Linked DNA regions of Homo sapiens. The protein of the gene in region 3 interacts with the protein of the main gene of each other region in a pairwise test. Each region holds a gene or a part of one and is shown on either strand. Other genes may lie near its edges. The genes, in order: FAM107A, PTCHD1, GFM2 and TRIM9.

Region 1 (5,065 bases), on a different chromosome or scaffold from region 3:
CTTGTTGCTCACACAAAGCCTGTTTGGTGGTCTCTTCACACAGATATGAGTGAAAGTGATCATTACTGACATCCATTCACAACTTTCCGGGGTGCCTAACTATTTTCAGGGCCCTGGATAAAGGTGAGCAGAATCAGACAGGGTCCCACCCTCACAGGGTTTGGAGTCAGTATAATCTCAAGTGTGGTGAGGCTGCCCTGCCAAATCTCCTGTGGTGTGAGGACTCTTGTGACACACACGCTGCAGGACCAGGGTTGGAGGGTCCCTTCACATCCTAAGGTCAGCCCTCTCTCCCAGGTTTTGTGTTTAGTGCTGGTTTGCCATTGACAGGGGCATTCTGCAAACCCAAACCAGGACCCGAGAGAGTGTGGCCCCCGCAAGAACGGGGGTTGCTGTCTTGGCTCCCTGTTTAGGGAGAGGTCTGAAGTCAGAGCTGCTGCAGCAGCCTTTTGCTTCTCCATGGTCTCCAGGCTTGAGTGATGGCCTCATCATCAGCCTTCAGGGATGATCTGACTCTCTAGACACTCCTGTGGTGTGCAGGAGCCATGCGGCTCTGATGCGGGTCCTGCCAGCATGATGCCAGTGAGGCCCAGGTATATTGATGAATGCCCAAGTGGGCAGATGAGGGCTTCCCAGCAAATGGATATCTGTGGGTCAGGGTGGAAACCGTGGAGGAAGGAGGCAGGTAGGGCCTTCTCTGGTTGCTATGGGCTGGACCTGGGAGAAGGCTAGGTGTATTGCAGAGGGAGAAGGGGTTTCTCATTCTTTCATTCGACAAACACTTCCTGAGCATCTTCTCTAGGCCTTGTGCACTAGGGATTCAGAGTAAACAAGATAGACAAGAATCTTTGCCCTCATGGAGCTGACATTATCATTAGGAGGGACACACGAGACAAATCAGTAAAATATAGAATATGTTCAATGGTGATAAACAGTAAGGGGGAAAAAGAAGGCAAGGCAGGCAGAGGAAGACTGCAGAAGTTGAGATTTTAGATGGGGTGGCTAAAGGGGACCTCATTTAGAAGAAGTGTGATAAAAGACCTGAAGAAAGCAAGGGAGTGGGCCGCGAGGCTCTTGGAGGGAAGGATACTCCTGGCTGGGGAAGAGCAGGTGGAAAGGCATGGAGATGGGGCATGCCTGGAGAGGGTAGGAGGCCAGCACAACTGGGACTGTGTGAGCAAGTGGGAGAGTGCAGGAAGGAGGTCGGAGGCTAAGAGGGAGCTGGACTCGCAGGACCACCTGGAATGCAGGAGAGACTCCACTGGGAGCCCAGGGAGGGCTCTGTGCAGAGTCGCAAGTTCTGCCTTAGACTGGAGGAAGATCATTTTGGCTCCTCTGTTGAGAACAGGGTGTAGGGACAAGGCCAGTAGGGGAGACCAGTTGGGAGGAGACCACTGCAGTCATCAGATGAGGGGGAGGCACTGCACCTTTGTTCTCTACTGTGTCCCAGCCTATGGCATGCATCCTGGCATGGAGCAGGAACTCGATAAATATTTGTTGAATGATGTGTGCTTTAGTCATGTCCAAGTACCAGTTTTCAGACTCATGCTAGGTAGGCTATATGGGGAAGGTGCAGAAAAACAGATCCCAGGCATTGCAGCTGGGGATCCTGATCCAATAGGCTTCTGATGGGAAAGTTGAATCTGGATTTTTAGCACAGCCTGCAGGTAATTTTGGACAGGCAGGGACTGGCCTTCTGTGTCAGTTAGGGATGATTTTGGTTGCAAGTAACAGAGACTGACCAACAATGGTTTAAACAAAGAGGGATTTATTTTATTTACAAGAATTCTGGAGAAGGATGGCGGCTGGTATTGGCTTGGTGAAATAATGATAGGGTCAATGACTCTGTGATTCTCTTGGCCTTTTTGTCATGGTAGCAAAGTGGCTGCTGTGGCTCCAGGCATCACACCCTCAATCAAGGTAGGAAGAAGAGGCCCAGGGAGGTGTTAGCCATGCCTGTGTCTTTTATTGGAAAAGCTTTCCCAGAAGCCCAGGTAGACTTCCTCTTCAATTTCATTGGCCACACCTGATCACATAGCCATCCTAAGCTGCAAAGGAGACTGGAACAGTGAAAATCTGGATTTACAGCCTCCACAGTTGGAGTGGCTGGAGATACAGAGTTGGGACGACCCCTGAAAAGTGAACCAAGGTCGTCTGCACGGCTGCCCTGGAGGGCGTGGTGCTTGAGGTCCCTTCTACCTCTGGGGCTTCATGGAATGACTTGTTGCCTCCATGGAGCACCTCTGGGGACCACTGGGTGAATCCCCAGGCATTCCCTTGGAGAGCCCTCGTCCATCTGAGACCCTCTGTCTTGCTTCTCTTCACATGTCTGAACAACACATGGACCCGAGGGCTGCTTCTTTGGGGAAGTGGTGATCTTTATTTTAGGGATTGTGCATCTTCAGTGTAACCCTCACCTGGCAGACATTAAACAGCGTAAACACATTCTCAGCACGCCAGTCACATTCAGGAGCCTCTTGGAGCTTGACTTATACACACGCACACAGGCGCAATATCTGCATTTACAGCCCTGTGCTGGCAGCACACACAGGAAAAGCACGACTTCAGTCACCCTCAAACCACCCAGTTATGAGTAAGACCAGAACAATCCCTTTCCTCCGACAGTCCCACGTTTGCTTCCAGGAATCAAAGAGCATGCCAGTGGCAGCTATCTGTGGCAGTTTTGGGAAAGTGAAAGGAGATGCTATTCCAGCACTGCTCTGTCACCTTAGATGATGGGTTTAGGAAGCCAGAGGCAGGGATTTCAGGGGAAAAGAAACAGGCCTGGTTTATTCTCTAATTCTTTAAAAATGGGATAGGAGCAAAAGGTTAAAATATGTGGGTCTCACACAGGAAAGGCCTTCTGAAGAAGAAAAATGGGTGAATTCACTGGAGTTGGCCCAGCTAGGGGTTGGGTCTCAGGTGACAGAGGCCGGGGATTCAGACTCAAAGGGGCCAGTCCATAAAGGTGGCAGTGGGGTCTTCAAACCACTGTTTCTATTCCAGAAGCCTACTGAAAATCATTGTATATTTGCTTTCCATAAGACTAGGAAAAAGTAAAAAAAAAAAATTTTTTTTTTTTTTTTTTTTTTTTTGGCTAGAATTGCATCGTAACAGTGTGGTCACACTGGTAAGAAATGCAGATTGGCAATCATGTACATCTCTGATTAAAACAACACTCACATAACCAACACAATTTGCTAGGCCAAAGTCTTCACGGGCAATCCCTGGGGTGGGAGTCTGGGATGGGGTGGATAATGAAGGATACCTGGGGTTGCAGAAGTGGGGTGGGAATCCCTGGGGCATCAGTCCACAGGAGGTGGGGGCCAGCGATGGCTTCAGGGGTGATATTTCCAATATATATCAGCCCTGGGCACTCTCGCCCTGCTGCTCACAGCATGGTCCTCACACCAGCAGCCTCCGCCTTACCTGGGAGCTTGTTAGAAATGCAGGATCTCCCAGATCTATTGAGTTAGAAGCTGTATTAACAAGATCCCCAGTGATTTTTATGCACAATCAAGTTTGTGAGGCACCGCTGCAGACTTCTGAGTGCAGGAATGCGGCAGCCCTGGGTAGGTGTGGTTAGAAGGCCTGGACGGGGAGGCTGTGCGGAGGGGATGATGAAAGCATGGGTGAGGGGAGAAGACCCTAAACAGCTGTCTTTGTTAGTCCCCGCCCACCTGGCCGGGATGCCAGCAACAAGGCCATCTGCAGTCTGCCCTGCCCTTCCTCCCCTCAGTGGCTTTGAAGGCAGGTGTCCTTGAAGCTAAGCTCTGCTGGCTGCAGGTAAAACCACAGGTGGGGGAGTTCTCTGAGACCTAGGAGCTGGGGTGTACGGAGAAGCGGGGCCCTGGGGAGCCTCGGAGATTCCTGGTGGGAAGGCCTGGGCAGAACAGAAGGCTTGTCAAGTCAGAGGGCCACCTCTTCCTCCTCAATTCTGCCAGAGAAAGCTCCTGTGCTGGGCTCTGAACCCCTTGCAGGGAGGGGTGCAGGTTATCCCTCTTGGAGCAGGAGGGCTGGGTGCTTGGAAGGAAAACCTAGGAGCTTAGGGGCCCCAGCCTCCCAGGGAGAGCCAGGCCCTCTGGGGTGACACATTTCTACAGAAGCAGGTGGGAACATCACAGACGTCCCAGGGCCTGGGGCCCAGGGCTGCCAGGTACAGAAGGGCTGAAGGAGGCTGTCCAGGCCAGGGTGGGCAGTGGCCTGAGCCCGGCAGCTGGCCCTACAGCTCTCTCTCTTCGCTGGTCAGTGTGGCAATTCTCCGCAGGTTTTCCCTGACTTTAATAAACTCGGGGGCGTGATCCTCTTCCTTCTCTGGTGGTTTTTCCAGCTGAAGGAGGGAGAAGCAGAGAGTGAAGTGGGTGGAGCTAGGGGGATTCCTACTCTGAAAACCTGTGGAGTTTGGACCAAGGGCCCACTCAGTGGGGAAACAGAACCAACCTGGGGATGAGTTTTGCTATCAGCCTGGTAGCTGGGGCACAGAGCATGAGACTGAGTTCTCCTTGTGCAGCCTGGTTCAAATCACTCACCCCCTCTGGGCCTCAGCTTCCCCATCTCTAAAATGGGAATGCCACCTGGCTCACAAGACAGTTATAAGAATGAAATCAGAATCAGCATGCAGTACACTGGGCCAGTGAGGAAGCTGAGGTTCAGGGAAGCCACTCGCCCTAAGGACCTAGCAAAGTGAATGGCAGAGGGAGGACTCAGGCCAGGAGTGGACTCTTAGTCCAGTGCTCTGTCTGCTGATCCTCTTCCCTCTTACTAGCTGTGGCCACAGCAGAGCTCCTCCCTGGAGGACAGCCCTGGAGGATGCGTGGTCCCTGCTGGGTGCCCATCACCCACCTGGTTCAGCCTCTGCTGCCGTCTCAGCAGCTCCTGCTCAAAGGGGCACTGCAGCCGCTTGGCTTCCAGCTCCTCCTTCTTCTTCTTGATGAGCTGGTTCCGCCGGCGGTGCTCTAGGACACGCTGCAGCTCTGGCTTGCTGTCCACACCAAGGCCCCTGGGGTGGGAAGTGGGGAGCTGTCAGGAGACCATCACCTTCCCGCTTCCCCCAGCCTCAGGGCTG
Region 2 (8,290 bases), on a different chromosome or scaffold from region 3:
TTGAACAATGCTTAAAGGTGTTTCTGCCTTGGCAGTTGACCTTTCAATCAGTGGGTTTTGTCACAATGCCAGCAACATCTGCAGTTTGGATAAGGCAGGATCCTGCTTGTTAATAAGCTTTCTTCTACTTGATCTTAGTTTAAGAGACTATAGGTCTCCCAGGGTGTGTGTGTGTGTGTGTGTGTGTGTGTGTGTGTGTGTGTGTCTATGTGTGTGTGAATTCTCATAACAACTCCTTTGTTTTAAAGACTGAAAATATGCCAGGCCCATTTCTCCCCACTGTCCTTTCCTTTTTTTTTTTTTTTTTTTTTTGGCAATGCCTGTTTCCTATCTTTAAAAAAGGGAAGAACTTTGAATTTAATTGTTTCATTAACATAATCTCTTTGGTCTTGATAAGACCTAAGGTGAAAATATGCCAAGCAGACATTATCACACTGTTGTAATTTGGTCAACCACACGGGTACTATCGATATCTACCATTTCTACACACTCAATTTCCTCCCGGTTCTCAGGATTTTTCTTCTCTTTCCTTTTTTTCTTAGAGGGTGGCAGGAAAGTCAGTATCACAGGTAAAATGGCAAAGCAGTGAAAGAAGGTGACAAATGCTATTAAAAACAAGCACCTGAACAGTGTACAGGTCAGATTTGAAGGCACAGCTGCAAGAGGAATCAGACCAACAATATAGCAGAGGTAACTCTGTAAAATAGCTACCCCATGCACTTCCAGGGCATTTTTTACCCATTTAGTTCTTGTGAAATCCTTGCCCAGAACAAATGTGGATAACATTGGAGCACAATTGTCAATTGTGTAATTAATTCCATAAATTAAGCATAGCACAGAAATGCAGTCCAGTTCTACTTTCCATAATGTCATGAAACCTATCACTCCAAACTCCACGGACACAACTGTGAGAGTGATCCAGACGTTAATCAGTGAATCTGCCACCAGGAATGCCGAGAAGAAGAGCAGGAACAAAGCACTGATGCAGGAGTTGTGCAGGGGGGCTCCCAGAGAGGAGGCATATCGATCCATGTATACAAAGGACGGATTGAAGACGATGAACTTCACCTTGGAGGTGACAGAAAGTCTCCTCAGGGTTTCCAAGAGATCATAGAGTTCTTCTCTGTTTGTTTCCATGGTCTTGGCCACCAAAAACATTCTGGAGGCCACTACATCGACCTCATCATTGTATTTTTTAGAGAAGATGATGTCCTCTTGAAAATGTGAAAATTGAGGGGCTTTCAGAAAGGAATTCCTCAACATGTCTGTGAAATTTTTCTTAGGCAAGCCAGTGGATACATTGAGTTTCCGAAGGTAATTTAAATAGCTCTCAAACCAGGATATCCGCACAAACCCCTTGGTGTATTCTAGAACATCTTCTTGGACACTAGTGTTCCAGTATTCTATAGACTCATATATGTAAAACCCAATCACAGGACTGTAGTTGCTGAAGTACTTTTGCTGGGCAGTAGTGTACTCAATGGTTTGTGTCGCGGTTGCTACAATGTTACTAAGGTCTGACCCTTCACTGACCTGCAGATAGCCCATTAAGGCAAAGGAAATATAAATAAGGTAAAAGAGAACTACAAAAGGCTTGACATAGGTGTTGGTTATCCAGTCACAGTAATAGCGTTTGAGGAAACATACCAATAGGTGACTCTCGTAAGTGTTCGCTTCCTCGCCTTCAGCTGTGTCCTCACTGAATCTGGCCGTCAGGAGAAACCTGTACCATGCCGGCTTCTCCTGCAATGCCTCAGGCTTTGGGACTTTTCTACAGAAGATACTATGCTGGTAATTGTTTTCTATGTAGCCAGTGAACACTAGGCTGGAACCATAAAACGAGAGTACATAGAGGTAGTTGAAGAAGATTGCAATACAGGAATTGCAGCAGAAAATCCTGGCTGCCTCAATGTTCGTGAAAGGGCTGGCCCCTATGCCAAAGGTGACCAGGTACATGGCAGTGGTGAGAGAAAAGGAGAGCATGGAGTCTGCATAGACTGCTGCAGTTCTCTCTTTAACATGTTGGTCTTCTCTAGTTTTCCTCCAGGAGGATAACATTTCAAAAGTCCCATATAATCCATGACCTAAGAGGGCAGAAAAAGACCAGAGCAGAAGTTTAAAGAACTAATCTCTTAAGAGGGAAATCAACTTGATTATGAGGGACTACTGGGTCAAAGGAAACGTAATCAACCCTAGTGGTGACGGGTATGTAAATGCCAATGATTTCTCCTATGCGGAGATAGACCCATGTTTTTATGAATCGTAAATGTTAATGGATAACGAAAGGGCAGCTAGAGAAGCAAAGATCTTCATATTCCCTCTGGCTTAAGAAAGTTCTCTTCTTTGGAGTGTTCCACCAAACAAACAGCACTTAGATGAACTTTTGCCTATAGAAAGCTGAGTAGAGCCAGTCATGGTGGCTCATGCCTGTAATCCTAGCAACTTGGGAGACTGAGGAAGGAAGATGACTTAAGACCAGGAGTTTGATACCAGCCTGGGCAATGTAGCGAGACCTCATCTCTCAAAAAAAAAAAAAAAAAGAAAGAAAGAAAGAAAAAAGAAAGAAAAAAAAAGAAAGAAAATGAAACAACTTAGCCAGGAATAGTGGCTCATATCTGTAGTCCCAGCTACTTGGGAGGCTAAGGCAGGTGGATCTCTTGAGCCTCGGAGTTGGAGGCTGCAGTGAGCCATGATTGTGCCACTGCACTCCAGCCTGGGCAACAGGGCAAGACCCTGACTCTAAAAAGAATAAAAGCTGATTAGACTTGTGCATATGTCTCTTGGGGATTTTTCCCATTAATAGCTTAGAGTTATTGGTGCAGTTTGGTTGGTGGAACGCTCCAGAGAAGAGAAGATGTCTGGACACTCATCATTTTGCTTTCCGTCCCCACAAGTCTGGCTAGGGGTCAGTGCAGAGGAAGATAGTGGGCAGAGGGTTCTGAGTTAATGTCCTGTCACCTCATTTAAAATTTGCCAACTAGAGGGTTTTAGTGATAAAGAGGCAGTGTATTTCATTTGAGTCTTGACAGGAAACTAAATCACAGCCCCCTCTGTTTTCCCTCCCCAAATATCAGGGCAGGAAGCAATAAATCTTAGAAAGAGGGAAGCAAAATAAGTAGGAGTGAAGAAGTTTCAGTGAAGAAAATACAGAAAAAATAAGATAAATATGAACTCTCCTGGTTATTGATAAAAATTAGGATTCAGGTTGAAGGTTTATGACTTGCAATTTGTCTTCAGGGATCTGTTTGACCAATTTGGTTATTCATACATGACTTATCAAGCAGTGATATAATACGTCAGCAGCGACTCTGCTAGCTTCTCCGCGCTATTTGATAGTGGCATCTGTGGGAAAGAGCCAGATCAGTAACCCCGCTGCGTAACTGCTTAGTGCCTTCGCCTCCTGGTTTAGTATTTCAGCAATACTGAAATAGCAGAGGTACAGTAAATGCTCATGTTCTAAACTCCATTCTGCTGCCTGGAACCTGATCTAGCATGACTTCTACCACCTCTCGTAGTTGGAGCCAGACATTTCCCTACTTCGAGTCCCTGTGTTTCCAGGCCACTGCAACATTGGAAGGCTCACCAAAGTGACCCGTTGTGGATTTCGATAACTCCTGTCTTGGCAATGGGGATCAGCAGATCTAATTTCCTGCTTCCATCGCCTTGGCATATTCAATCCCATTATTGAGGATAATAAAATCTTTACCCTGTGGTACAATAGTCTTGTATTTAAAAAGGAATTTAAAATCTCCAGCCAAGCATAATGCTGAATAAAGTGAGTCACTGTTATCTTGTGTGTACAATAGCTAGGTGTACATCTTCCCTCATGCCCAAGCTAGTATTTATATCCTTATTGTGAAGTCCTGGCCTCATACCTGAAATGCCCATTTCAAAGTAATGATTTAGGCCTGTTTCCTCAGAGGAATTTGGCATTTATCTTAATTGACTAGGCATCGTTTTACAGCCACTTTTAGAAGTCAGGTCAAGACTGTCAATTTGTTAACTAGCACCGAGGCCCCTATTAAATTGAAGGCACCTAAACTCCCCAGATATGAAGTAAAAAGTACACTCATTGACTGGCATCCTGTTGTTAATTATGCTTAGGTATTAACATCTAGTCTGGAGAGGGAACATGATTAAATCTGTTTCTAGTATATTTTCAAGATGGACCCACTGACCTTTAATTAAGTAACCATTCTCTTGACAATGAGGGTAAAAAGAGAATACTTCTGAGGCACTGTCCCTGAAGAAATAATATTGTTTTTTTTGTTTTTTTTTTTTTTTTCCTGGGGCCATGTAGAGCAAGTAAGCTTTGGTGGGCAAAGCACACTTCAGGGGATCACTATAAATGGCAAATAATTTTTTAATGATATTTACTTGCCAGAAACAAAAAATTTAAACAGGGTTTTAGTACTGAGTTATTAAATATGGCAAGAAAATAAAGCATATAGCGGAATTAGAATTAGTCATATAATAGAACTTAAATCTGTTTTGCAGTTCTTTTAAAAATCAGTGTGATGTTTTATAATGACATTATCTGACCCTGATTTTTGGAAAATACAATAAGAATCAATTTCATACCTTGCTGTTGAATAATCTTAGAAGCTAATTGAGAAAAGGAATTTGAATTAACAGAGATATTAGGTGACAAGACTGAGGCTCCAGGGTCAAGAATGAAAGTAATCAAAATCAAGGAAAGGTGGAAGTAGGCTGTTAGCTTCTCTCTTGAGTTCTGTTGCTGCATTTTAAATGCCTTGTCCTTCTATAGTTTGATCTTTTATTTTGAGTCCTGGCTCTTTTTGCATATGTTCTTGGTTTGGGGGCAGCTCCAAAGAGAATTCTAATTTTCTTCTGAGGGGCTTTTGGAAACGATGCCTTTCCTTAGTTCTTCCTTCTTGCTACAGGTGTGTACATGCAGCCACTCACAGAAATCAGAAGAGGCCCTGAGAAAGAATTTGTTCTAACCGATCACTCAGCATTTGTTGCTAGTTGTGCCTGACTTTGCCTCCAAAGGCCCCGACCACCATTCCTGATAGGTCAGATTCCTTTCTCAAGCCACACCTCTCGAGCAGATTGCTACACCCGAATCCCCAAACTGGAGTTCTACAGCATCTTACAAGAGCCCTTTGGATTTCTGGGACAATTGCTGATACCATAACTGGGCCTCCTTCCTGAAGGTTTGTCAGTCAAGGGAGGGACAAGTGCTAACATAGCTGTGGTCACCTCTTAAGGATTAACAGCCTGGAGTGCCTGGCTGGCAGCTGTCCTGGCTCATAGCTGGGTATTTTTGCTGAAGAGGTCGGCCTGTTATCCTATAGGAAAGGCCATCGGTGAGGACTCTTGTGTTCTGGCCTGGATTCAAGGGGAGACACATTCCAAAAGCCCTAGGACACGAGGACCATCCTGCCCTCCAGAATGCCGGAATTATATCCGAGTTCCCCTTGGAACTTTCAAGGGTATCCTTTTAAATGTAAACTCCTCTGGGACAGTGGTCTACTGAAGCAGCTTCCCTTAGGTCTGGGGAATGGGACAGAGAATGGACATGGGAATGGAATAAAGAGGAAATGGCAGGTAGGAGAATTTCACAGAGACGAATTTCTTCAGTTTTTCCTTCAGTCAGGTCTGACCTTATCTTTTACTAGCACTCCAGAAACTGGGCCACCTGGAGTCAAGGAGAGGCAGAGAAGATAGATTTTGGTAGGTTCTGTTCCTCTCCACTTTCCTCTTTCAGTGGATGGCTACCTCCTTTAGCATCATCATCATTCATTGCTTTTTTTTTTTTTCGAGACGGAGTCTCACTCTGTCTCCCAGGCTGGAGTGCAGTGGCACAATCTCTGCTCGCTGCAGCCTCGGCCTCCCGGGTTCCAGCGATTCCCCTGCCTCAGCCTCCTGGGTAGCTGGGATTACAGGCACATGCCACCACGCCCAGGTAATTTTTGTAGTTTTAGTAGAGATGGGGTTTCACCGTATTGGCCAGGCTGGTCTTGAACTCTTGACCTCAGGTGATCTGCCTGCCTCGGCCTCCCAAAGTGCTGGGATTCTATACAGGCATGAGCCACCACGCACAACCCACTCTCCTAATTTTGGGGCTGTAGTTCAGCAAGCGGAACTCTGACGCCAAATCTTACAGACGTAGGCAAACAGATATTGCATGTGGACTGAAGATACTTTTCAGAGGTCTGACTGTTGTTTCCTACTTTTTAAAAAGGTGTTTTAAAAGCAAAAGTACTGCTGTTTGCTTTGCACTCTAGTTTTAAAAACTTCTCTACAAAGTAGGAGTTCTATAAGCTTCTCTGTTAAATCTGACCAGTGGGCCTATGTCATTGGCACAAAGCATGACTTTGGCAAATAACAATTTCCCATCTCCAAAGTCCCAAGTCTGTTCACAAGGACTCCCTGGTGACAGAACTCATGGGGTGGGGCCAGGGCAGAGCTACCTAAATACAGATTTTGATTTTGGTCAGTAGGGACCCTGTGGTGTTATTGGGAGTCATGACTCATCATTTGAGGGCCAGGTCGCAGCCTGAGACCTTGGGGTAAAAAGACTATATATCACAGTGAGGATATCAGGAACCTCCACATCCTGACATCCTCACATTCCAAGGATTACCCTGGATGATACAACATCCCAGGGGATTCCTTCTTTTACAGTCACAGTGCAGGACTGAGGAGTTGCCAACGGGAACTGTTAAACACATACTGATTCTATCAGATTTTGAAGATAAAAATGCTTCTAAAGCATTCTCTTGTCCTTTAAAAGCATATTCAAGATGTTTGTTTCTATTTTTGTTACCCTGCATGTCTGTATTGTTACATGCATAAGAACAAATGCATATCAGTATGTAAAAACACATACACACACACATAAAGAGAAAGAGAGAGAGAGAGATTGAAGGGAGCGCCAAGTTCTAATTATTCGTGAGTGAATACTCTGAGGCAGCTCGAGGTTTTTGTCAGGCCAGCAGGGCTCTTCACTAATGTTGAGGCAAAATTTGGGCCGGGAGTGTGATTTTAAAAAGAAAACTGCTTTTATTAATTTTATTTGCAGTACACTTTGGGGTTGTCATCTAATAAAATAAAATACTAAAGAATTTAGGCTAATAATTTTTCTTATTCTCAAAAGAATTTTTATATCTGAATGTGTTGTTAACTCTCAGACTTTGGAGCAAATGAAGGGAAAAAGAAGCACACATGATAAATAACACTAATGGCGGAAAAAAAAATTCAACTGGCTAATCCTCCCATCACTGAGGGTGACTATCAAGCACCCTCAGAGATTAATTCTGTCACCCAGAACTTTCTGGGGCCTGACCAAAGCCTTCAGGGTTGTTTATAATCCGGTAAGACAGAATCTACTAACAAATAGTTGAGAGTTAACCTTTCTTTACCCAGTAGATATACTTCTGGAAAGTTGCTCATAAAGTGAATAATATTTTAAATGTATTTAGTGGTTTTGCTATTGGAGACAGTCTGGGTGATTTTTTTGTTGTTGTTTGGTTTTCAATGAATAATCGTAGGCAAATTGATCTACTTTGTATAATACTTCTGGATTTTGTAAGTCAGATTTTTCTTCAGTCCCAGATTTTCGCGCCTGTCCCAGTATACATAGCCACAACACAGCAGCTGAGAGATGCCGCTGGGTGCTACTCACATTTTAAACCTCTCCACACTAGCAGGATTTCCTCATCCTGAGTTCCTCAAAGTAAGGAATGGCTAAGAAGGAGGAAATGGGATGGCTTGCTGATTGATGGATGATCTTTCAGTTTCAGTGTGAAAACATTTAATATCATGAGTCAATGAAGCTGTTTATAGCATGCCTGGGCAGTGCCAAATTTCATATATGGAAATAAAATTACTACATTCGTCTCAAAAATTCAGAGACTATAATCCATAAGCAAAATCTGCTTAAAGCCTATTTTATTCTTAGAAAAGCTTCACTAAGTAGCTCATGTTTATAAGATGCCTGTTTTTCAATGTCATCCACATAAATTCATGATTTTTGTGTTTTTGAGAAGAAATTTAAAGTGTATATATGTCTGGGTTGAGTAACATCTATTTTCAGGGAGAAGTTTATTAATTGGGTTACATTTACACTTTGCCAGTTATAAACATTTACTTTACAAGCTGAATTGTTTGGTTTATTGCAGCCTGTTTTGTCTCAGAGTTAAGAGTAAGAATAAAGGTGTACTCTGTTTAAGTAAAGACAGATGCTCACATCAGGGGGAACACACACATCTTATTCTTTGTACTAGAGACTTGTCACATTTTGAAAATTCTAACCAGAGCATTG
Region 3 (8,290 bases):
CAGTGGCTGTATTTGATGCCTCTGCTGGTGTAGAGGTAAATAATATTGCCAAAGTAAAGGGAATTAGAACAGCATGATTTTTTAAAAAGTAGAATATGTCAAATTTAGTTAACTGTAACCATCTATTTGGTAAGTTCACATAAATCAAATAATGGTAAAAGGAAATCAGAATTTATATTGAGATGTAATCTACATGTAATCTCAGATATTTCATAGTAAAAGGAGAAATAGGAAAGCTGGTGTCAAGAACTTTGAGAGATCAGAGATTCTACCTTACTTTTGAGCTAACAAGTTAGCCTGCCATAGTTTAATGGATTCTGGCAGAAGACACTGTGGTGTGAGATTGATTATACACTGTTATTTCTGTTTCTTTCTGGGTCACTTTATTTCCTAATAGTTCCATTTTTCTGTTGTTGTAACTTTAGATAAATTTGACGTTTAATCATTCAAACAGATTGCATTACTTACAAGATTGAAATGTGCTTGAATAGGAAGTTGCTGAATTCATGAAGGAGAAGGCACTTGTTTTAAACAATGAATGAGCTTTTAGCTGGCAGGTGGAATGGTGGGAGTTTTTTGTTTTGATTTGCAATATGTTTTTGTTCTTTGAAAATTTATGATATTCACCCTCCACGCCTCACACACATACCTCATCATACACAAAAATTAATTTGGAGTGGATCACAGTGTTAAGTTATGTATACATAGCTTCTAGAAGAAAAATATCTTTACAGCCTTGGGGTAGGTAAAAATTTCTTAGAGGACATAAGAAGCATGAAACATAAATAACAAAAGTTGATTCCTGGAACTTTATCAAAACTACAGCTGTTCATTAAAACAAAAAAATTAAAAACACAAGGAATAGACTATGAGAAGATACTTGTAATGTTAGATAAACATATTATACAAATATTAAATTTCCTGAATGCAATAATAGTATTGGTTATATAAGAGAATATGATTGTTCTTGGGAAATAAATACTGAAGTATTTATAGTACGTATCTATAACCATGGATTTGTATCCAGACTATATGAAGAACCATAAATCAATAATAACCCAGAAGAAAATGGACAAAAAACTTGAATGGACACTTCACAAAAGAACACATGTGAATGAATAGTAAGCACATGAAAAGATGTATAATCTCATTAGTCCTCAGGAAAATGCAAATTAAAATCACAGATTCAATTTCACACCCAAAAGAATGCTTATAATTAAAAAGAGTGATAGCAAATGTTGGTGAGGATGTGGAGCAACTAGAAATCTTACACATTGTTGATAAGACTGCAAAATAGAGGCCAGGCATGGTGGCTCACACCTGTAATCCCAGCACTTTGGGAGGCTGAGGCAGGTGGGTTCGCTTGAGCCCAGGAATTAGAGACCAGCCTGAGCAACATGGCGAAACCCCATCTTTATAAAATACAAAAAAAATTAGCTGGGTGTGGTGGCGTGCACTTGTCATCCCAGCTACTCCAGAGGCTGAGATGGGAGAATTGCTTGAGCCCAGCAGGGAGGTTGGGGCTGCAGTGAGCCTTGATTGCACCACTGCATTCCAGCCTGGGCAACAGAGTGAGACCCTGTCTCAAAAAAAATTAAAAAGACTGCAAAATAATGCAACTACTTTGGAAGACTATTTGGAAGTTTCTTTATTTTATTTTATTTTATTTTATTTTTTATTTTTTTTATTTTTTTTTATTTTTTTATTTTATTTTATTTTATTTATTTTATTTTATTTTATTTTATTTTGAGACAGGAGTCTCACTCTGTCGCCCAGGCTGGAATGCAGTGGTGCAATCTTGGCTCACTGTAACCTCTGTCTCCCGGGTTCAAGCGATCCTTGTGCCTCAGCTTCCCGAGTATCTGGGACTACAGGCGTGCACCACCACGCCTGGCTAATTTTTGTATTTTTAGTAGAGACAGAGTTTCACCATGTTGGCCAGGCTGGTCTTGAACTTCTGACCTCAAGTGATCCACCTGCCTCAGCCTCCCACAGTGCTGGGATTACAGGCGTGAGCCACCGCACTGGTGGATAGGAAAGCCAACTGGTACGTATGTATAATTAAAAAGAACGGAAATACCTAACAATGTGGATGAATGTTAAAAACATGTTGAGCCAAAGAAGCCATGCTATTTTGTATGAGGTTCAAGAATAAGACACTGAAGCTATGGTGACAGAAATCAAGACAGGTTGCTTATAGGAGACAGGGATGAGAAAAATTTCAGGAGTAACAGAATGTTCTATGTTCTAAGTGGGGTAGTAGTTACACAAACGTACTTTTATCAAAACGCATTGAGCTATACACTTAATATCTGTACTTTATTGTATATAAATTTTACCTAAAAAATAAACTGGCTGCTTTATAGTACACTCCTATATTTCTTTTACCTCAAAATAAGTGTCTGAAATAATTAAGGCAAAATTCCTATTTCATAGATCAGAAACCTGACATTAAATGAGTTCAGTGTCATATGACATTTACTAGGAAAAGTGAAGCCAAACAAGAAGTAGGTCTCCTGATTCTCAGTTAAGTTCACTTTCCATGATTCTCAGTACCTCCTGAGGTGTTAATTCTCTTTGTGTGGCCACCTAGTTCACCCAGAGTATTCTCAAGTGGTTTGAAGCACACTCCCCTTCACACTTCATCACGTTCCCGGCTGTGTTAACTTGATAGCTAAAGAGTGACCCTAAAAATATAAGTGCAGTTGCACTAATTCTCTGCTAGAATAGGGCCCAATTTATCTGACAGTAGATTTTTGGATCTCTTCATTCCAGGTCTAGTAACATAGTTACTTTTGTTCAGTATGTATTTTTTTCCTCATCTTTGCTTTAGGCCCAGACTCTCACAGTATGGAGGCAAGCTGATAAACACAATATACCTCGAATCTGTTTTTTAAACAAGATGGACAAAACTGGAGCAAGGTATTTGAAATGTGTTTCATTGGCTTATCAGGGTGAAACTACAATTTGAGCTTTTAATGAACTATAACTTAAATTTAGGAATAGCTATTTTTTTTCCTATTGTATTATAGGGTATAAATATTCCATGGAATCCCAGTTTATTCCCATAAAAAAATTCAAAGCAGCTAATCCATAGGTTATATAACAATTTGGGAGTAATAGCTGATAGATGGTGAATCATCCTGTTTCTAGTATAGAGAGACTGAATCATATTTCTGAGATCAAAGTGGCTTCTTGATGATTCCATTGATTCTCTTTAGAACACAGGTATAGTCCCTATATTGCTGAAGGTATGGCGCTTCCCATCATCGCTAAAGATAGAGAATAGAGAACTGTTTCCTGCATTTGAAGGTGTTCTTCCATATTCTCTGATTTTCTTAGCTACTGGGTAAGATACTGTCAATAAAGAACTGGAAGAAGAGAATGTAGATGCTGTAAGACCTGCATGTAGGGGCAGAAGAGAGTTAATGCTGAGATGTATTGGTCATGGTCAGAGACTTACAGAGTGGTGGATGCATTGTCCTGGGAATATAATTCAGATAATCAAGAATATTTGAAAGATTTGGAGAAAATGTGAAAGGGAGAGAATCAAGAATATTAAAAATTCTAGAACAAATGTGATAGGGAGAGATTGTGGCCTGTGATGGGAGAATGGCAAAAATGAAACATAAACTATACCTCCCCTAAAACTACACAGTAATTAATATGCTTTGTGTTTATCTCCCTCTCTATAGTAATTCTGAGGCTGTTTGTTTAAAGAACCTTGTCTTGATTATTAATAGCCCAGCAACCTTTAAAATGTACTAGCCTCAAGTTCTGACCCTTTTCTGCTTGGAGTTCCTGTGGTAGATGGAAGTACTTATTTATTGTCAGGCAGTGCCATTGGCAATGGGGAGGGATATGACTGGAAAATAGGCTGGTTCTGAAAAACAATGGGACCGGAATGACCTGCATGTAAATCAGCTTGTGTGCCAAAGATGGCATGTGTTCTATAGGTAGCCAGCTGCAGTGTTAGCATAGAAATGAATAGCGTAGCATACGATGTGAAGAATGCCAAAGACTAGGCAGGCTCTTGGAAGAAAGCTAGTTGCCTTGTATGGTAGTAAACCTAGTTGTAGAAGAAAGAATCCTTGGCTTATCACAAATCTTGCATTGGAATCCCAACTGCACTTTATTATCCTTGTTACCTTGATCAATTCATTTAATGTTAATTGCAAAGTATAGTTATGCGAAGCTCACAATAATAATACCCTAAACAGCTCTGTGGCTGGATTAGGGTAATTACTGATATCTGAAATTGACATAAAAGTTTATTCCAGACATTTTCCTATGGAAAACTGTTAAATAGTGAGCGTTAAGGAGAATAAAGTGAGTTAAAATTTTAGAAAACATTCTTAAAACCTGAAAGAGTTTTTTTTCCTCTCTTGATACCTTTGGTAAAGAATTTTTAACCATGTTTTTAACTATAATTATTTTGCTTTCTACAGCTTTAAGTATGCAGTTGAAAGCATCAGAGAGAAGTTAAAGGCAAAGCCTTTGCTTTTACAGGTAAATTGGTTAATAGCATCAGCTTCTTCTCAGTTTCCTCATTAATTTATTTTGTGACAATATATACATTTCCAAAGCTATCTCATCATTTTTGAAGAAGTTGGGGTATAAATAGAAATAGCCACAGATTATAGTAATGGTGATAATAGACATTTTGGGGAAAATGGTACAATTAGAAAAGACTTGTCATCATTGTAGTTTTCAGTGAGTGATCATGTAATAATGTTAATCTCACTCTGACTTACAGTTACCAATTGGTGAAGCCAAAACTTTCAAAGGAGTGGTGGATGTAGTAATGAAAGAAAAACTTCTTTGGAATTGCAATTCAAATGATGGAAAAGACTTTGAGAGAAAGCCCCTCTTGGAAATGAATGATCCTGAATTGCTGAAGGAAACAACTGAAGCAAGGAATGCCTTAATTGAACAAGTAAAGTATAATGAATGATAAAATGAACACCAATGTGTGCACCACTTATCTTAAAATATAGTCATACTTTAGCATCTCTCGGGGATTGGTTGCAGGACCTCCTGTGGATACCAAAATCTGCAGATGCTCAAGTCCCTGATATAAAATGATGTAGTATTTGCATATAACCTATTGATGTCTTCCTCTATACTTTAAATCATTTCTAAATTACTTATAATACCTAATACAATGTAAATGCTATGTGCCATTTTTTGTTCATCTCTCTCTCCCACTAATCATCTACCTGTCCCCCAAATTATTATTTCAATATTTCTCTTTCATTTGCTTTTCGTTGAGATGGAGTCTTGCTCTGCGGCCTAGGCTGGAGTGCAGTGGCACAATCTCAGCTCACTGCAGCCTCTACCTCCCAGGTTCCAGTGATTCTCCTGCCTCAGCCTCCTGGGTAGCTGGGATTACAGGCACGCACCACCACTCCAAGCTAATTTTTTTATTTTTATTTTTTGGTAGAGATGGGGTTTCATCATGTTGGCCAGGCTGGTCTCGAACCCCTGACCTCAGGTGATCGCCCACCTCAGCGTCCCAAAGTGCTAGGATTACCAGCGTGAGCCACTGCGCCGGGCCTCATTTGCTTTTCTTTAGTTTACCATAAATCCTTAAAGAACTTAGGTTTACATGTTTTGAACTTTACATAAATGAAATGTTACTGTTTGTATTTTATGACATTGCTCAACATTGTTGGAACTTTATCCATGTTGCAAATATGTGTAGTTATAATCTATTCATTTCAATCTTGTATATTGTTATAATATATGATTTTACCACACTTTATTGGGTATTCTCCTGTGGATGGGCTTTGAGGTTGTTTCTCTTTTTTGCTGTTACAAACAATGTGGCTATGAACATTTTTGTATCTACTTGTGCACATGGGCAATAGTTTCTTTAGGATTAAACTAAGGAGTAGCATTGTTAGGTCAAAGGATATGCATGTCTTTTACTTTACTTTTCACCAGATGTCAAATTATTTAGAAAATTTTAAAACCATCAATTTTATAGTTGGTATATAGCTCTGGGCCTCATCCACCTTCAAAATTATAATCTTCAAAATAGCAAGATTGTTAATATTTGTAATTTTATATTATATTGTTAGTATATATGGCAATAAATAAAACATACCTTAATTTCTTGAATATTATGGTAGAGAAAAACGTTTGAATCAGAGCCCTTGATTTTTCACTTCTAAATTGAATTGGTCCAAATAAATTTATTCAGCATTCATTTTTTTTTCACTTATCTTTTGTACATAGTTTTTTTTTTTAAGTATAGTCATGTACTTCATGATGACATTTTAGTCAACAACAGACCACATGAATGTTGACAGTGCCATAAGATTATAATACTATATTTTTCCTGTACCTTTTCTATGTTGAGATACACAAATACTTACCATTGTGTTACAGTTGCCTACAGTATTCAGTACAGTAACATGCTGTATGGATTTGTAGCCTAGGAGTAATAGGCCATAGCCTTGGTGTAAAAGCAGGCTATGCCGTCTAGGTTTATGTAAGTACACTCTATGATGTTGGTAGAATGACGAAATCACCTAACACCACATTTCTCAGAACTTATCCCTGTCACTAACTGATTCCTGACTGTATGTAGTAATCATTGCAACTTTATCATTAACATAATAATTGTTATTTTTGTTATTGAGTTAATGAGGGCCTACTGTGTGCTAGGTTAAGTGCTTTACATATACTTTTTAATTAAACCCTCACAAGAACCTTATATTGTCCCTATTTTACAGATGGGGAAACAGCAGCTCAAATGCTTAAATAAGTTGTCACACAGCTAATAAAGTGGCTGAGCTAGAATCTGAACCCAGGTTAATCTGTTTAGAGCTAAAGCTCTTACCCGCTTTGTTATACTGCTTTTTTAATTTGGGGAGCATAGAAGATATAAAAGTGGAATTGACGTTTATTAATAATTCATTCCTCTTTGAGTTTGTTTGTGTTGTTTTAATACAGAAGAGCTATAAGAATAAACTTAAGAAGGATCTTGTAATCTAGTTGAGGAGCCAACACACACTTGCCCATGTCTCATGGTCTTCTAGGATGTGATAGTATGTGACAGAAATCTCAGAAAGAATCTGAGACTGTCAGTAGCTAATAATATGCTAATTATAAGAAATACATAAGTATGTATAAAATTTACAGAATAAGACTACTTCACACCCATTAGGGTGCCTACTGTCAAATACAGAAAATAGGTGTTGGCAAAGGTGTGGAGAATTATAACTTTGCGCACTGTTGGTAGGAATGTAAATGTTGCGGCCACTATGGAAAACAATATGGCGATTCCTCAAAAAATTAAATATGGAGTTACTATATTACCCAACAGTTCCACTTTTTGGGTATATACTCAAAAGAATTGAAAAGAGTCTCAAAGAGATATTTGCACACACATGTTCTTAGCAGCATTCTTCACAATAGCCAAAAGGTAGAAGCAACCCAAATCCATGGATCCAGAGTAATCAGATTCAGAGACAGAAAGTAGAATGGCAGTTGCCATGGGCTGGGGAAGGGCAGAGAGAATAGAGTGTTGTTTAATTAATGTATATGGAGTTTGTTTTGCAAGTTGAAAAGAGTTCTGGAGATTTATTGTGCAATAATGTGAAAGTACTTAACACTACTGAACTGTGCAAGAGTACAGTGGGCTGGGTGTGGTGGCTCATGCCTGTAATCCCAGCACTTTGGGAGGCTGAGGTGGGCAGATCACGAGGTCAGGAGTTTGAGACCAGCGTGACCAACATGGTGAAACCCTGTCTCTACTAAAAATACAAAAAAATTAGCTGGGCGTGGTGGCACGCGCCTGTAATCCTAGCTACTCAGGAGGCTGAAGCAGGAGAATCGCTTGAACCCAGGAAGCAGAGGTTGCAGTGAGCTGAGATCGCACCATTGCACTCCAGCCTAGGTGACAGAGCCAGACTCCGTATCAAAAAAAAAAAAGAGTACAATGGTAAACTTTATGTTGTGTATATTTTGCGATAATTTAAAATTTTCCTTTAAATTAGTGGATAAGATTAGTGTGGAATAGAATCAACTTCCAATATTGAAGGTGCACAGTAATAATAGCTAATACTTATTATACACTAGTATATATTCTTAAAGCATAATTTGAATTATTTAATCTTTATAACAGCCTCAAGAAGTAGATACTACTATCATCTTTGTGAGTTACTAAGGCAGAGAGGTGAAATAACTTGACCAAAATTTGAACAAGTGGGTAAGTGGTGGAACCATTTCTAGGTAGTCTGATTCCAGAAGCTGAGCTTAACCATCACATATAATGCTTTCC
Region 4 (8,252 bases), on a different chromosome or scaffold from region 3:
AATGACTAATATGATAGAATATGAATGACAACTTTTCAGGTCTAGTAATAACCTGTGTTGATAACTAACTGCCCAATTTTGGAAACCTAGTTAGTATAGTTCTTTGCTGTCCTATTTTTGCAGGGCATAGAAATTCTGGCCCATGGGCTTTTGTGGAGATAGAAGTACCATTAACTAAAACATAAACTATATGAGAAAACTGGCTGCTAACACATTAACTTCCTTATTAAGTAAATAAGGTGGGGGAGTAATGTTTGTTGTTCATCTAACAGATGACAAGTGAATGTTAAAATCTGTCATCCTTCTGTCTTATTTTTTTTCTTGGCAGTTTAGTAATCCTCATATTGACTGAACAAAAATTATGTGTCCTTACTGTTTTGGAAAAAATGTGCAAAAGATCAGAGAATAAATGGTCTTCTAGCCTACTTATGTCATGTTTCAAGGGTTTTAACATTCTTTTGTGGCAGGTAGATATCTAAATCTCAACCCAGGCAGCACCAGTGTCTGTCTACTCATAATTTCTATTGCCAATAAAACAAATGATTTAACATTTCAAATTGACATGGGGCTTGACAGAGATTTAAAGGTTTCTTTTGGTCTTAATAGATCAAGGATAGGCTTGTCATAAAAAAAATAATAATGTTGTGGTTTACCCATCCTAATTACCTTGTGGCTCTAAATTCTTTTTCCTGACAGAGTGATTAATTTTTTAGTTCCAAGGATACTTTGTAGGGCAATTCAACATGGACTATAATTAGCAGTTTAAAAGTGAAATCAAAATATGAATAAAAAACTAGCTGTGAACTCAAGTTTTGAAAACTTTCAAAATTAAATGTCATTTTCAAAAATTTAAATTCGACTGTTCTGAAAACAGTGGTGTGTGCCCAGTTAGGCTTCAATTTGTGCTAAATGAAATCCCCATCAGTACTAATATGATTTAATAGGTTATATGTGAGAATAGAATGACTGTAAACATGGATCACATTCAACCGGGTTAAGGAGTTGAGAAAACTTTCACTGATTGCTGAAAATTAATGACATTTTTTTCTTGCTGTAAACAAAATATCAATGTTCCAGCCTTAACTCCACAGTTGGCCACTTGCAAAAGCTACCCTTTCTAGTCTCCAAGGAATTCTGGGAGACTCTGAGCAAGGCCACAGCTGAGGCCTGGACACTATCTTCACTGCTCCATCTCATCCTTGGGTATGCAACTCAGTGATGTAAAGAAAAGCTCCTTCCAACCATCCTGAATCCCTGCCCTGCACTCCACAGCCCCAACTAAATGGATCATTTAAAAAATGAAAAGCAAATTCATGCACATCTCCTCAAGAGTTGCTCCCTTCCTTCTAAGCAGTGTGGGCATATTATAAGGATCTTCTTCCTCATGAGGCTTATTTCGTTTATGTCTGTGTGTGTACAGGGAGCAATAGATAAATACAAAAAATAACATAATTAAAATATATAGCATGCCACACAGGGATAAATACTACTGAGGAAAATAAAGCTGAGAGGGAACTAGCGGGTGTCTGGGTGGGTGGCGCTGCAAAGATGATACCTGAGCAAAGAGCTGAAGGATGCAGGTAAGTGACCCATTCGGATCTCAGGTAACTGGGGAAGAGAGCTTCAGGCTGAATGAACACCAAATGCAAAGGCCCTGGAGTAGGGAGGTGCCTGGCGTCGTTTGAGGAACAGTAAGAAGCAGTGTGGCTGGAGCAGAGGGAGTAAGTGGGAGGCAATGAGGTCGAAGGGGCCAAAATGGAAGAGGTCATGTAGGACAGGCTGAGAAGCGTGGGAAAAATTGGAGGGTTTTGAGCAGAGGAGTGGCACGACAGAATATGTTGCTAAAGCCTCTTCGTGTCTAGCCATGGTGGAAATATCATCAAAAGAGACTGGAAAGATAAATCTGGTAACAGGTGTCCCAAAGTTTGCACATATAACTACTGAAAGAGGAAAGGGCTTGAATTCCGGAGAAGTGGGTGTGTGTATAGTTGGGAGGAGAAGGTTTCCCTAGGAGATGCACCTGTCTGGCTTCCAGGCCGCGACTGCGCAAACTCCGGTCCTGACACTCTAGTCTCAGGTCCCAACTCCGGAAGGGTTCAGGCCCAAGCCTGCACGTCGCGTTGCCATGGCGACCGCTGGCTGCCCTCTCCGCTCTGTCTTTTGAGCACGTGGCACCAGGACCCCGCGTTCTCTCCAGCTCGAGAGCCAGGTCTGGCCCAGAGCCGGGCTCATCAGTATTCCGCCTGCGGCGTCTCCCCGACCCTCCGCCGTGCCTCACCAGGTCCGCCTATCCAGCAGCGACAGACTCCCGCCGTCCGCGCGACCCCACCGCCCCCATCCCAGTCCCTCCCCGAGGGTTCGCAGCCCGCCCTGCCCTCGAGCGTGCCTAGCGGCCCTGGGCACTGGCGCGGCTCTACCCAGCTATGCAGTGCTTTCCCACACACTGGCCGCGGCCACTGGCTGCAGACCCGCCGCGGAAAGGGGGCGCCCTGAGTCCCGCTCGCAGGCAGCGCGCCCCGAGAGACCCGCTCTAAGGCATCCCCGCAACAACTCTGTGGGGGCATTCAACTCCCCCGTGCGCCGGTTAAGATTCCCCCATGCCTCCTGCAATGCACCAGACCAGGGAGGTAAACATCGAAGGCACCTGCATTGCGCCCCCACTGGGATGCGCTGTGCGCAAGAGACGGGGACCGTCTGCTGCAAAACCGGATGATCGGAGACGCAGGGAGTTAGGAGTGGGTTTTCTTAGGACTCACCTTATGTAGTTTCCACATGGCCCCCAGAGCCTTGACTTCGTGGCTGGAGTGTTTGCCCTCCTCCAAGCACTGGTAGCACACGGGCATCTTGCATTGCACGCAGTACATGCTGTGGTTCTCCAGCTCGTGGTCTGTGCAGGTGGAGACCTTGCGTGGGCTCAGCCTCCGGCTCACACGACCCTGGGCCGGGGGCACCAGGCGGTGCTTGGCTAGGGGCCCCCGGGGCGGGTGGCAGCGCAGGCGGCACGGATCGCAGTAGAAGACATCGCACTGTTCGCACATGACGGTGGCTTCCTTGGGCGCCTTCTCGCAGAGCTGGCACTTGAGGGCCGCGGCTTTGCTCTGCTGGTAGCGGTCAATTACCCCTTCCAGTACGCGATTCTTGGGGAAGCCGCGGAGCCCCCGGTCATCCAGGATGAGGCTGCGGTGACACTGGGGGCAGGTGATACAGGAGTTGCGGGGCACCGGGGCCAGGGCCGGTGACAAGTGGGTGGCCGGTGGCGGCATAGCCGGGGGAAACACGCGGACGCCGTTGGGGGACTTCTGGCACGGGGTAGTGGGGGCGCTGGCGAACCCCCCGTAGGAGCCATAGCCGCTGTCCGCCTCGCTGTATAGGCTCATCTTGTCCAGGTCCAGATAGTCATAGTCGGAGACCCCGGAGCCCGCGGCCCGATGGCTCTGGGGGGATTCAGACTCTGGGGTCTGCACCAGGATGTTGCGGGCGCACGCCTGACACAAATTGTGAGAGCAGGGCAGGATGATGGGCTCCCGATAGAAGGAGCCGCACACGGGGCATTTCAACTCCTCTTCCATCTCCTCCATGGGGACCGGTCTGGGAGGAGACAGCGACGGCTGCAGCGGGTGCCTGAGCTGGCGAGGTGGCCGACGGGCCCGTCTTGTCCAGCACCCTGGCCAGCGGCGGCGGCTGTGGTGGTGGTGCCTTCCCGCGCAGCACTGGCACGGACACCCAGAGAGGCGCTAGCTCTGTGAGCCGCAGCCGCGTAGCCGCCGCGCCGCGCGCCAGCCCGGACCGCCCCTACCTGCCCTCCTAGTCCCGCCCCGGCCCATGAGCAGCGGCCCATTGGGCGGGGGGCAAGAGATCGAAGCTCTCATTGGCCACCAGACCCGTCCGTCTCCTCGTCTCCGCAGGCCACAGGGGGTTCGGTAGAGTCTGAGGATAGGGCAGTCTTCGCTCGCGGCTGCAAGATCTCTGAAGGGGGCCGGCGTGCGGAGGCTAGGGGACCGGGAAGGAGGAGTTAGGCGGGATGATTCATCCTCGCCCGGCTTACTTCCGACCTCCGGTGCAGTCTCCCAGGAGCTGGGGGCGTGAGAAACCCCTCCCCGCAGCGAGTGGGCTGCCGGAGGGGGCTGGGGCTTCTCGCCAGCGTTTGCGTTTGGCTCCCAGCTCTGAGCTCCGCGCCCACCTACCGCGGGCGAGTGCTGCGCAGCACGGAGGACGCCCCTTCTCTTCCGCTGCTGGCAGCCTTCGCAGGCGTCTCACCCGGGCCTAGGCTTCTGCACGGCAGTGGGGCTTTTCTCCTTCTCCGTGAATCCGCTGACGCCGTGCCCTGGAGCTCCCCCATCCCGGGAGTCTGACGGCGCTGGCGCAAGCCCTGGCGACACTCTTGGCTTCTTTCATCCTGCGTCCCTCGTTTCCTAAAGAGCATGTATAAAGTCGATTTCCTAGTGTCGACATGAGATTCAACTGGGTAACCGATGGAAATGGTCAGCATTAGTCAGAATCTATGACCCCTTCGTTTCATGCTTTAAATTATAGCTCGGCCCAGAGGCCTCAGTGCCGTGGTGTGAACGTGCTTCCTTCCACGGATCCTTCTTCCTCCTCGCGGCCTCCCAAAGCACCTGGCTGAGCTTTTTCGAGGCCCGCTGGGCCTTTGGTTCGGTTGAGGCAAGAACAGTTTGTCTATTTCTGAGTGCCCGTAGTTTAGTAAAGCTCTGTAAATGAATCACTGTGTGACTGCGGAGTCTCAGTGTTTCACTCCAAACAGCATTATTCAACCCCACGTGCCCTGGGCATCTGCCATAGCTTACAGCATCGTGTGCCTTTCTGTTTCTTCCAACGAGGGGCATGGTGAGGCGGTGATTCTAGTGTTAGTCCCTGTACAAGGAGGGAGGGAGGGAGGGAAGAAGGGAAAGAGGGAGAGAGGGAGGAAGGAAGGGGGGGGGAAAGGAAAGGCGGAAGGAAGGGAAGAAAGGGAGGGAGGAAGAAGAAAAGGAAAGGAAAATCTTTGAGTCAAGTGACATTCTGAGGTAGTAACATTTGAAATAGTACATAGCCGGCTTTTGCTGAATGATTCATGAAGTAAAGGACAAAAACTCTTTGCAAGTTCTAGAAATATTCCAATTTTCCACCTTCCAGACAGGAGATAACTTGATTATATGCAGCTATGTTGATAATTTAAAAGTACTTTATTGTCCAGAAAAAAAATGGACATTTTATTACACTGCCCTTGTAGAAATTGTCCAATAAACTAGGTTATCTTTTCAACATCTTTAGTTGCAGTGAGAACAGTAGTTGATCATTGTGTGGGGGAATAAAGTCCCCATTGTTATTTAAAGCCATGTTAATCATAAATGTGACGTGATTTATTTTTAAGCTGGCTTTCAACTAGTTGAGACCAGAGCATCCAAAGGTATATGCACTCTGTTTACAGACATAGATAAAATTTCTTCAGGTATGGTTGGGACATTAGCTGCACTTGCAGGATACACTTAATTTATAGGTCCCAAGAGAAATTACTAATAATTATATTCAATATAGTATTAATTGAATTGTAATGAAAGTTAATTATTGAGAAAATATTAGAAAGGAGTGTCCTTTTATGGCTTTTGTATGCATTTGACCACAAGTCACAATATCTTGGACCAGCAAGGTGAGCAGCTGTTACACTTTGTATGAGTTTGAACTCTGCTTATAATAGTATATCATCTAAGAGATCTTATTAGCAGAAAGTTTATGCTTAGTTCAAAGTAAAGAAGAATTTTAGAGGATGTCTCATGGTGTAATGCAGTGTTGGGTTCGCAAAAAGAACAACACAGGTTTATAATATAGTCAATATAGAAAGATTTGGTCTATTATGAAGTCGCTTGAGATGATTTCATTGTTAGATCTGTTTGTTTAGGAATTAGCTAAATCAGTCAATCCTAGGAGAGCTCTTAAAATGACTCATTTGTTGAGAGTTCACCCTGTTCCAAACAGGGGATTTATTTATTTGTATACATTACTTGGTTAAATCCCTGTAATTACAAGAAGAGGTAGGCACAATTATTCCCATTTTACAGATAAATAAACTGAAGATAAGCAAAGACACTTAAGTACTCAAGGTCAAATATGGTGAGGCTGGGATTGGAACCCGGACACATATAAGTTTGTTCCTTTGTTCATTCATTCATTCATTCATTCATTCAACAAGTGCTGAGTTCTACTCTCTTCAAGCTCTGAATGTGATAAGTACCCAAAATGTTCTTTGTTAACTTCTATGATATTCTGCTCACCTTCTCTGAAAGTTTACTTTTTTTTTCCTTTTTTTTTTTTGAGACTGGAGTCTTGCTGTGTTCCCCAGGCTGGAGTGCAGTGGCACAATCTTGGCCCACTGCAACCTCCACCTCCCAGGTTTAAGTGTTTCTCGTGCCTCAGCCTCCTGAGTAGTTGGGACTACAGGTGTGCACCACCATGCCTGGCTAATTTTTACATTTTTTTTTTTTAGTAGAGACAGGGTTTCACTATGTTGGCCAGACTGGTCTCAAACTCCTGACCTCAAGTGATCCACCTGCCTCAGCCTCCCGAAGTGCTGGGATTACACGCATGAGCCAGCGCTCCCAGCCAAAAGTTTACTATTTTTCTTTGAATCCATTTCTTTAAAATATTCTTGAAGGCCTTTGAAGATTTTCCCCTCATGTTGCACTGTTTGGCCATAATGTGCTTTATAGCCCCCCAATGACTTATGTTTAAAAGGGAATAAAAATTGAAATGTAATTGGTAATATTATAGAAATATTATACTATTGAGGGGATATCTTCTGTCTTCCAGCTGGTGATCAGTCCATGCCCTGAAGCACAAGGATTGATAGCCCTGTAATTTCATCATTCCTGGGATGATTGCAGATGTTCTCTTTTGTGTAAAGTGCCTAATTATCCTTTGAAACTTACTATTCACCCAAATTATGTTCTTTAGCAATGAGAGCAATTACATTTAAAGTGCAACAACAGCTTTTGCATTTTTAAAAAAAGATAAATGTTTTTCTTTTTTTGATAAATGTTTTTCAATGAAAAATTGAGTTGCTTTCCTATTTGCTTTTGACTACAATGCTTGATTATTAACAAAACAGTCTCTGTGAGTCTAAAGAATGAACACAGAGAAGAAAGGTTTTTCTTTCCACATTCTCTCCTAGAGTAGTCTATCCTTAGTTGTGGGAGGGGGGTGGAAATCAGTGAAAGGAGCTGATCTTAGGCTCTAACATTTTAAGATTATCTGACATGTATATAAAAATATTTTATTAAGGTATTTGAATAAGGGTCTTGCTGCATGTGGTTTGTAAAAGTACATCACTTGAAAAGTGATAAATGTGATGTTTCTATTCTCAATAGAAATTCTGAAGAAACTTCTTTTATGGAATAATTTACCCCATTTAGTCTACTAATATTCAATTTTATACTTATAATTTTGTACTATTCTTTAATAACATTTATTGTTGATATCCTTTGGTAATTTAAATTATTTGATTATTATAGTGAATTATGAGCTTTTTCCCATTTAGTACTACTGGAAGATGGCCATATTCAAATTCTGTAGTATTTCTTATTGTAAGTAATATATTACTGATGCTTTGGGAAGGGTAGACTGGAGAATCGGAGAAAATGAAGATTTAATGAATCCTATATGGAGGTAAGAGAGCTAGAGGATAAATCCAGAAGACCTAACTTGTGAATAATAGGAATCTCAGAATGAGGAAATAACACAGGTGGAGGGAAAACCATAGTTGGAAAACATTTCTCTGAACCAAAAAAATATATAAAATTACAGATTGAAAGGATTTTAGAATTATAGATGACATTAATGAAAAAAGACCCAGTTATATACAGACACAATTCTTAACTCAGAAGAAAAAAAAAAGATCATTTTACAAGCTCCCAGAAAGAAAGAACAACTTAATTGTAAAGAAAAAAGAATCAGATTGGCATTGGACTGCTTTCTACAACCTTGCAGGTGAAAATAATGTGAAACAAATTCTACAGCCTACTAAAACTGAAAGAAGTCACCCTGTCATAGTCCGTTTTTGCTGCTATAACAGAATACCACAGACTGGATAATTTATAAGAAACAGAAATATATTGGCTCATGGTTCTGGAGGCTGGGAAGGCCCAAATCAAGACACTGGCATCTGGTGAGGGCCTTCTTGTTGCATCATCCCATGGTGGAAGGGCAGAGAGAGGGCAAGATAGAGGGCAAGAGGGAGCTGAACTTCTCCTTTTATAAGA

What was found.
Region 1: the proteins of GFM2 (region 3) and FAM107A interact in a two-hybrid assay, tested with the Homo sapiens proteins (one study listed by BioGRID).
Region 2: the proteins of GFM2 (region 3) and PTCHD1 interact in a two-hybrid assay, tested with the Homo sapiens proteins (one study listed by BioGRID and IntAct).
Region 4: the proteins of GFM2 (region 3) and TRIM9 interact in binary tests that used the Homo sapiens proteins (3 or more experiments, as listed by UniProt).

The regions. Positions count from the first base shown.
Region 1 is NC_000003.12:58,562,366-58,567,430, forward strand, and holds the end of FAM107A (actin-associated protein FAM107A), read right to left. Parts: intron 5,000-5,065; coding exon 4,843-4,999; intron 4,331-4,842; coding exon 4,223-4,330; 3' UTR 1,752-4,222; downstream 1-1,751. UniProt on the Homo sapiens protein: Stress-inducible actin-binding protein that plays a role in synaptic and cognitive functions by modulating actin filamentous (F-actin) dynamics. Mediates polymerization of globular actin to F-actin. Also binds to, stabilizes and bundles F-actin.
Region 2 is NC_000023.11:23,386,325-23,394,614, reverse strand, and holds part of PTCHD1 (patched domain-containing protein 1), read right to left. Parts: intron 2,085-8,290; coding exon 430-2,084; 3' UTR 1-429. UniProt on the Homo sapiens protein: Required for the development and function of the thalamic reticular nucleus (TRN), a part of the thalamus that is critical for thalamocortical transmission, generation of sleep rhythms, sensorimotor processing and attention. Can bind cholesterol in vitro.
Region 3 is NC_000005.10:74,742,324-74,750,613, reverse strand, and holds part of GFM2 (ribosome-releasing factor 2, mitochondrial), read left to right. Parts: coding exon 1-35; intron 36-2,833; coding exon 2,834-2,922; intron 2,923-4,448; coding exon 4,449-4,509; intron 4,510-4,756; coding exon 4,757-4,936; intron 4,937-8,290.
Region 4 is NC_000014.9:51,091,362-51,099,613, forward strand, and holds the start of TRIM9 (E3 ubiquitin-protein ligase TRIM9), read right to left. Parts: upstream 3,745-8,252; 5' UTR 3,579-3,744; coding exon 2,757-3,578; intron 1-2,756. UniProt on the Homo sapiens protein: E3 ubiquitin-protein ligase which ubiquitinates itself in cooperation with an E2 enzyme UBE2D2/UBC4 and serves as a targeting signal for proteasomal degradation.